Regions from separate parts of the Homo sapiens genome. Here all the other regions are linked to region 1. Evidence: fine-mapped expression QTL. A gene starts in region 1. Each other region holds a variant in brackets. All regions are shown on one strand. Distances are from middle to middle. Region 1 holds the start of FAM20B (FAM20B glycosaminoglycan xylosylkinase). Region 2 overlaps FAM20B (FAM20B glycosaminoglycan xylosylkinase). Region 3 overlaps FAM20B (FAM20B glycosaminoglycan xylosylkinase).

Evidence for each region.
Region 2: its variant is fine-mapped to the expression of FAM20B in whole blood (INTERVAL, PIP above 0.99).
Region 3: its variant is fine-mapped to the expression of FAM20B in vagina (GTEx, PIP 0.94).

Annotation. Positions count from the first base shown.
Region 1 is chr1:179,024,544-179,027,303 of GRCh38, forward strand. It overlaps FAM20B (FAM20B glycosaminoglycan xylosylkinase), which reads left to right and starts at 1,351. Exons shown (of 8, transcript NM_014864.4): 1 at 1,351-1,555. RefSeq lists silencers at 1,168-1,357, 1,398-2,137.
Region 2 is chr1:179,074,739-179,077,498 of GRCh38, forward strand. FAM20B (FAM20B glycosaminoglycan xylosylkinase) reads left to right here. Exons shown (of 8, transcript NM_014864.4): 8 at 1-1,829. Among named protein-coding and RNA genes, the nearest start is that of TOR3A, 6.0 kb to the right of the region's middle. The variant C/A (reference allele first, on the strand shown) is at 1,627.
Region 3 is chr1:179,070,463-179,073,222 of GRCh38, forward strand. It overlaps FAM20B (FAM20B glycosaminoglycan xylosylkinase), which reads left to right. Exons shown (of 8, transcript NM_014864.4): 8 at 1,451-2,760. The coding sequence ends at 1,682. Among named protein-coding and RNA genes, the nearest start is that of TOR3A, 10 kb to the right of the region's middle. The variant T/C (reference allele first, on the strand shown) is at 1,333.

The DNA of each region.
Region 1 (2,760 bases):
CCAAGAATTATGTATTCTCCGGCCAGAAAACGACCTCCAAACCTCCAAACCTTTTCAACTACACGCAGCAAAAAGCTAATACAATGCCTTCTGCATTTGACTGTACGTCTCCTGCAGTGATTAATGCTGCCTCCCTAACTACATTGTCCGGAGCAAGTGTCAAGCCCAATTATTTCTCTAGGATCTCCTGATAGTAAATGCTCAGCAAATATACAGACGAATAACACCTAATCATACACAATAATCTTAGAGTACTTTCCCCATACATTTCCTAACTTAATCCTTACAACAACCCTGTGAAGTTATTAACTCCCATTTTCCAGTTAAGGAAACTGATGCTCAGCAAAGTTAACTGGCACATCCAGTATCATACAGCCAGTAAGAAAGAATTCTGTTCAGTACGCCTTACTGATTAAATGAACTATGTGGCCTGAAGAAAAAGTGTCAGCTCAGTCTTTCCCCATCACGCATCTTATTCCATGGAGTAACCTGCATTATATTTCAGGGTCAGGCACACTAAGTTTGCGCTTTAGTATATGGTGAATAAATGGATGGACACAGTGGCGGCTCTGTATAAGTCAGCTGAAAGCAAACAAAGGGAAGGCAGAATCTTTCATTCACACGATTTATCCGCGCCCACTGGGTGCACTACGGTCGGGCATTGGCGACCCAGGAGCGACTGACCTGCCCTCATGGGGCTTACGGTCCTTAGCAAAAAACAGATGTAAAACAACTAATATTACAGTAAATGAATCATAATTTTGTGAGATGCTCCTGAAAGTATGTAGCAGGACGCTCCGCTCTGGTCCGAATGAAGAGCCATTTGCACTCAGTGTGGAAAGGCTAGCCTTTTTCTGGGCAAAAGAAGCGGGGGATACATTTAGATAGGCAGAAGTTCCGAGCAGAAGTCAAGGCAAATTAAAAAGGCAACAGGAGGAGGGAAAATGCTTCTCACAAACAGAACTCGACCTAGGGGACCGCAACTCTCCAGTCCTGCTGCTTGGCTGCCTACCTACCTAAGAAAAGCAGGAAAGAAAAAGAGAAGACGGGGTGGGGGATGGAGGACAAATACAGAAAAAGAAAAAAGAGCGAAGGAAGTGAGAAGTGAGAGGCCAGTTTATGTAAGCGGGCAGGGCGGCGCGGCCGGCAGGAGACCGGCGCCGGCGCCGAGGGAGTTAAGCGGACGGGCCCGGTATGGAAGAGGTTAAGGGGGGCAGTCCGGAGCGGGTCCGGTAGGGGCCGCCTACTGGGCGGGGGCGGGGCCGCGCCGAGCGAGCGCTGGGATTGGCCGTCGGGCAGGCGCTACGCTAGGACGGTACCAACAGCCGGGGGCCTCGGAGGCGGGGGGGTGGGTGTGGGACTGCCGCTCTGCGCGGCGAGAGGTGGCCTGGGAATGGCCGGGCCGGGGGTGGGCCGGAGCCGCTGTGGCGGCGGCGGCGGCTGGGGGCGGTGAGCGCGGCGTGGGGCTGCCCCTCCCCGGAGGCGGCGGGGGCGGCCGGGGCCGCGCCGCACCGCACCGCGCGGGCGGCCATGGAGCGAGCCTAGGGCCCGACAGGTGAGTGGCGCGGGGGCGGGGGAGGGCGCGCGACCCCCGCCCCCGGCGCGGCGGGCGGGAAAATGCGGACCGGCACGCGGGCGGGGCACGGTACGTAGCGCGCGCCGGGCTGGGGCCGCCTGGGGGCGGGGCGCCTCCCTGAGGGGCCGGGCACCGGGTGCCCTGAGCCGTCCCCGAGTGGCTGCGGGCGGGTCCCGGGCGAGGGCCCGAGGCTTCCTGGGAGACCCGCTCGGGCCGCGTGTCCCTGTGTGCGGTCGCGGCTGAAGGGACGCGGCCTCGGCCGCCACGTCCCTGGCCCACCTGAGGCGCGGGCCCACCTGGGGCCGCCTCAGGCTGCCAGAGGTCCTTCTAGTGACCGTCTCTCGTCCCCTTGCGCGGTCCCCAGAGGCGATTGGCCCCGGTGCCTCTCTTGTGTTCCCCGGAGCGCCCGTTGAGGCAGCCCAGGGAGCGCGCCCTCGCGGGGTCTTTGCTGGGCCCGCCTCGTGGCCGGGAAGCGCGAGTGACCTGCAGGCCGGAGGCGGAAGGCGGGGCAACCGTGCCCGGGGCCCGCGGTCTCCTGGGGTCCTGCGCCGGGCGCTCGCAGAAGGGCACAACTTAACGAATGCTGTGTTAGCCCTCAGTGGGCTGCGCTTGAGATTTCATTTCCGGGTGTGACGGCCCCGCGATTAAGAGCGGACCGATACGTTTCCCTTAATGATGAATGTGAATAGTTGTCGAGCTGCGTCCTTGATTGTGGGTTCTGATAAGAGATTCATTCTAATCTGACTTCTGTTAACCTGCCAGTCTCCGGATAAGAAGAGAAGGGGTAGAAGGATGGATTGGAGGGAAAGTAGGGGTAACAGGGCTTGGTTAGTCTTAATGGAATTATTAGTCCTTTTAAAGACCATACCATCATTGGGATGGATAAGGAGTTTCTAATTTGGGAAAATGAGAGTTGCTTGCTATTGCGACTTGGGTCTAGTGCCAGATATCAGCATCTTCCCCACCCAGCCAGCTTCCCTCTGGAGGTTTGATTTCTCACTTGGAAGGGAAGTAGGAATGTGGGGTTTTTTTTAGCCTTTAGCCTTTAAACTGTAGGACTTTATAAATCTATAATCTGGTACAAATTACTATTGCCATTTATTAGCCACGCCTATGTTTTTTGCGTTGTAAATTCTTGCAAAAATTTCACTGGCGTTGATTTCTAAAAATCTGGTTAGAGATCT
Region 2 (2,760 bases), 50 kb after region 1:
TAGAGTGGTATGACATGGCACTAAAAATATAAATTTTTGTTGTAAGTCAGGATTGGAGTAAGCTGGAAAAGTATGTTTAGGCAAATCTTGGAGAAAACCAACCATAAACTTACAGCTCTAAAATTCAGAAAGCCCTAAAATTTCAAACACTGTTTGAAAGAAGAGGTGGGGGCCGGGTGCCGTGGCTCATGCCTGTCATCCCAGCATTTGGGAGGCTGAGGCAGGCAGATCACCTGAGGCCAGGAGTTCGAGACCAGCCTGGCTGGCTAGCATGGTGAGACCGTCTCTACTAAAAATGCAAAAATTAACAGGGCACGGTGGCATGCGCCTGTAGTCCCAGCTACTCGGGAGGCTGAGGCAGGAGAATCACTTGAATCCAGGAGGCGAAGGTTGCAGTGAGCTGAGATTGTGCTGCTGCACTCCAGCCTGGGAGACAGAGCGAGACTCTGTCTTAAAAAAAAAAAAAGGAGGTGAATTTTTTTTTAAGTTTTGTAACACTGTCCTACTTTATTTATTAGAATCTAAGGCTGTTACAATCAAGTCGTTGCAGGGTTTGGATCAGCTGTAAGTTAGGTATGCCTACCAAACATCCAAAGGTAGACGTGGAGACATTTTAATACTACAAAACTAGGAAAATCAGAACTCATGGCCATTTCCTGCCCTCCTCCAACTTGTTAAAACATGTTTATTCTAAAGTTCGAATGGATAAATTTGAGTATAAAGGTTTTGTTATAAAACTGTTCTTTAGTGTAAGGCTGCATTGTGGGTTTGGGGGAAATGTAAATAATTTTCTGTGTAAAACAAATTCATAGGATCTGATTTGCTCAGAGTATTATTCAAGAATGTATTAATAAGGCATTGCCCCCTGTTTGCACTCAGGGTTAATATGTCAAATGAAATTTAAGAAGGAAATGGAAGAATTCAGGTACATTAATTGCATATTATTTTGGGAAAGATGAGTCCTATACGTGGCAATTTTTCAATGTCATCTGAAGCCAGCATTATCTTCCAAAGAAATCGATCTTTTTTTTCTAAAAAAAAAAAATGCTTTTGCCTTCCCTTCCCTTCCCATCCGCCATATTTCTTCAGCCTTTCTTCTCGATCACCCGTGTATTCTTTGACCAGTAAATGACCACACCTCAATGATGGTAAAACAGCATCATCAGTAAGCTATCTTATATGCCTCATCCTGTGAGTTTGAGCTTCAGGAAACATGAGTAAAAGTATATGTAATGTATATAGTCGTATATGTATTCTAGCAAGAAAAACATATTTATTTTGACAAAGGGGAACACTGACTTTCTGAAGGATTCAGAAAGAACCTTAGTGAAAGGTTCTCAGTCTCTGAGAGTGGACCCTAATTAACATAAAGACCATTCATCAGCGAATAACTACTGAGCAACTCTAGTGTGCCAGCACAGGCCAGACATACTAGTGAGCCAGGCACATCTGGCCTTGGGAAACTCATCCTACAGGGGAAGGCCAGTTTTTTTCCCTTCAATTCCTCAAGTCTGGGTGGTGACAAGGTAGGGGCTAGGTACTGGACTACCACAGGTTTTTAGGAACTAAGGTGTTTCTCATAAACACAAAATGTTGGGTGAAACTGGGAACAACTACTCAGAAGCT[C/A]ATTTATTTGCTTAAATGGAAAGTGTGGGAGCCACTACCCTCTCTTTTGATCTGCCAAGGATTTCCTCTCAGAGCTGTTGCACAGACAGAGATTGTACTTGGTAAGATACCAAACAAGACAGATATGGATCTAAATTTCTAATGTGTTCTATGGGTTTCAATTCTGAAAAAAGAAAATGAATAAAGATTTTAATAAATATTGATATCTGATCTTTTCCTCTTCTTTCCCCCTTCAGGATATTTCCAGTGGTTCCTATTTCAGTTCCCTTCCTGTTAGGGGACAGAAGAAGATTACATCTTTTGTGACCACTTAAACTTCCACAGGGATAGTTTCACAGTACCTGGTGGATTAGACCTTTAAATTTCCTCACCAGTCTTCAAACGGTTCATACTAGATTGTAACTATACCAAAATTTTCTATGGGATCATTGTTAGGTGCTTTTTGTATATTTAATAGTTAACTCCATTTTTGCAGCTTCCTTAGAGGTAAAGAATTATGAATCCTGAAGAACTTGTCAGCACACTACAAAAAAGGCAGGAAGAGAAGGCCAGTTGCCCTAGTAGTACTTCTTAGGACACCTAGATTTTTAACTTTTGAAATAGAATCCAGCATCATAAACCTCAACCAGGTAACTGAGCAAAGCTCTTAAGATTTTTATTGGGCCAGGCACCATGGCTCATGTCTGTAATCCCGGCACTTTGGGAGGCCAAGGCCCGTGGGTCACCTGAGGTCGGGAGTTTGAGACCAGCCTGGCCAACATGGTGAAACCCCTTCTCTACTAAAAATACAAAATTAGCCAGCTTGGTGCATGCCTGTAATCCCAGCTACTCTGGGGAGGCTGAGGCAGGAGAATCGCTTGAACCCGGGAGGCGGAGAGCTGGGATTGTGCCATTGCACTCCAGCCTGGGCAACAAGAGTGAAACTCAGTCTCAAAAAAAGAAAAAAAAAAAATAGCTGGGTGTGGTGGCAGGCGCCTGTAATCCCGGCTACTCGGAGGCTGAGGCAGGAAAATTGCTTGAACCCAGCAGGCGGAGGTTGCAATGAGCCGAGATCGTGCCATTGCACTCCAGCCTGGGCAACGAGCGAAACTCTGTCTCAAAAAACAAAACAAAACTATTTTATTTGCAGCATAT
Region 3 (2,760 bases), 46 kb after region 1:
ATGGCAGAAGGCAAAAGGGCAAAGAGAGAGGGCAACAAGGGGCTGAACTCGCCTTTTTTTTTTTTTTTTTTTTTTTTTTTGAGATGGAGTCTTGCTCTTTTGCCCAGGCTGGAGTGCAGTGGCACAATCTTGGCTCACTGCAACCTCCACCTCCCGGGTTCAAGTGATTCTTGTGCCTCAGCCTCCCAAGTAGCTGGGATTACAGGCACCTGCCACCACGCCCAGCTAATTTTTGTATTTTTAGTAGAGACGGGGTTTTACCATGTTGGCCAGCCTGGTCTTGAACTCCCAACCTGAGGGCCCACCTCGGCCTCCCAAAGTGTTGGGATTACAGATGTGAGCCACCGCTCCTGGCCTTGAACTTGCCTTTTAATAACAGCATTAGTTCCACCCATGAGGGCAGAGCACTCATGGCCTAACGACCTCTTAAAAGACTCTACCTTGATACTGTTACAATGGCAATTTCAACATGTATTTTGTAGGGGACAGACATTCAAATGGTAGCAGTTGGTGAAATAAGGCAGATAGGTATCCTTAAAATAATTTTTTCCGCCAGGCGCAGTGGCTCACGCCTGTAATCCCAGCACTTTGGGAGGCCGAGGCGGGCGGATCACGAGGTCAGGAGATCAAGACCATCCTGGCTAACACGGTGAAAACCCGTCTCTACTAAAAAATACAAAAAAATTAGCCGGGCGTGGTGGCGGGTGCCTGTAGTCCCAGCTACTCAGGAGGCTGAGGCAGGAGAATGGCGTGAACCCGGGAGGCAGAGCTTGCAGTGAGCCGAGATCACACCACTGCACTCCAGCCTGGGCGACAGAGCAAGACTCTGTCTCAAAAAAAAAATAATAATAATAATTTTTTCCCAGTAGAAATTATTTTAGACTTCAGAAACACATGAGGAAGAAGGAAGTTTATAGTACCCATTAACGTCTAAGGATTAACGTCTAAGGATCCTCTTGTTAACACTGTAGTGTACTTCATTCCAATCCATGTATGTGTATTTTGTTTTCCTACAGATTTGAAGTGAAACAGGTTTTTCCTCCAACCTCTTCCCCCCACCCAGCATCATATCATAGGCATTTTCCCATTCCACTAAATTTTCAAAATTGTTTTTAACAGCTGCATGGTATTCCTTTCAATGGATGAACCATAATTTAACTATTTCCCAGTCGTTAGACATTCAGATTGTTCAACATTTTTCCTGTTATAAACAGCACTGCAGTGAACATGTGTGTAAATCTCTGTATATATCTCTGATTAGTTACACAGAAACAATATCAAAACATAGTAATGTGGCTTACTCATTATGTAGGGGTAATTCTAAAGCAAAAA[T/C]TATTTAGTTAAAGGATTTTACCTAATTATTTTTTCACTTTTGTCTGCCTAGCAGGCTTTCAACTCCGTTTGATAATGAGAAGTTTTATGTACCTTGTTCTATAACTTTTTCTCCCAGCATTCGGGTGTCCACCTGGAACAGACTGAACTACCTAAAGAATGGTGTGCTAAAGTCTGCCTTAAAATCTGCCATGGCCCATGACCCCATCTCCCCAGTGCTCTCTGATCCTCATCTGGACGCCGTGGACCAGCGGCTCCTGAGTGTCCTGGCCACCGTGAAGCAGTGCACCGACCAGTTTGGGATGGACACAGTACTGGTGGAAGACAGGATGCCTCTCTCACACTTGTAATTCTCGACACAAAATAAGTGAAACTTCTTTTTACAAAGATAGAGAAACAGCACAATCAATTCCAAATGGTATGAGATGGATTGGAAGTGGCCAGCAGCAAGTTCTGGTGACGGGACAGAGTGGCCTTGGATGTCTTTGGTATTTTCTGTAGTAGAAACTAAAGCAAAGACCACAAGTTTCAGAGCATGGAGACATTCCTGCTGAATCGCCTTCTCACCTCCTCGGCAATTGCTCATTCTAGGGTTGGGCATCATAGTTGGTCAGTCTTAATTCCCATGCCAAAGGACAAACAGGTGTGACATTTGGATAGATGAATACTGGGATTGGCTCTGGAGCATGTGTTTTGAGTTGAACCTTGCAGTCCTTTCTCTACGCCCGTGGATTTTGTGGAAACACTTTGCAATCTCTTTGTCTTTTTTTTTTTTACCAGAACTAGTTACATTGGAATGCTTACTGTCCTACAGAGTGGCAGCAAATAAAACCTTGCATTCCATCAAGCCAAAATAGCACACTCTGTTAGAGGAGATACATGTTTAAGATAGAATTGGAGGGAAGGACAAAAACAGAAAAATGTTTGGGCTTTTAAGCCATTGGGTAGTATTGTTTTGATGATCTTAGAGGAGGGAAGAAGAGAGAGAGACCCAATGGTAGAACCAGAATCAGGGAGATGACTGAACTACTGAAAAACAGGTTCCCTTGTATTTAGGATCTTAAGGTGTATAAAAAGCAAACATGACTTTGCACCTAAGTAAATTCTGCATTCTCATAGTTGTGTCCCAATTAACCAAAAAGTTGTCTCTAGAGAAAATACTATTACAATCTAAGCATGATTCTCTGTGGAGACTAATTTTTTCCCCTTTTGCCAAAAGCAGTCCTTCCCAAATTAACAAAGCAAACTGAAATAATACCTTGAATAACAGGTTGCCTGTGGTCTCTGTCATCCTCGTTTCTCTTCTGAAATGAATTTCCACCTCTGCCTTTAAGGCATTTTTGTCACTGAAGCTGCTGTTCCCAAGAGATCGGCAACCTTTTTGTCCCTTTCTCATAAGAAAGGGACACTCCTACAGGTGAGAGTGTA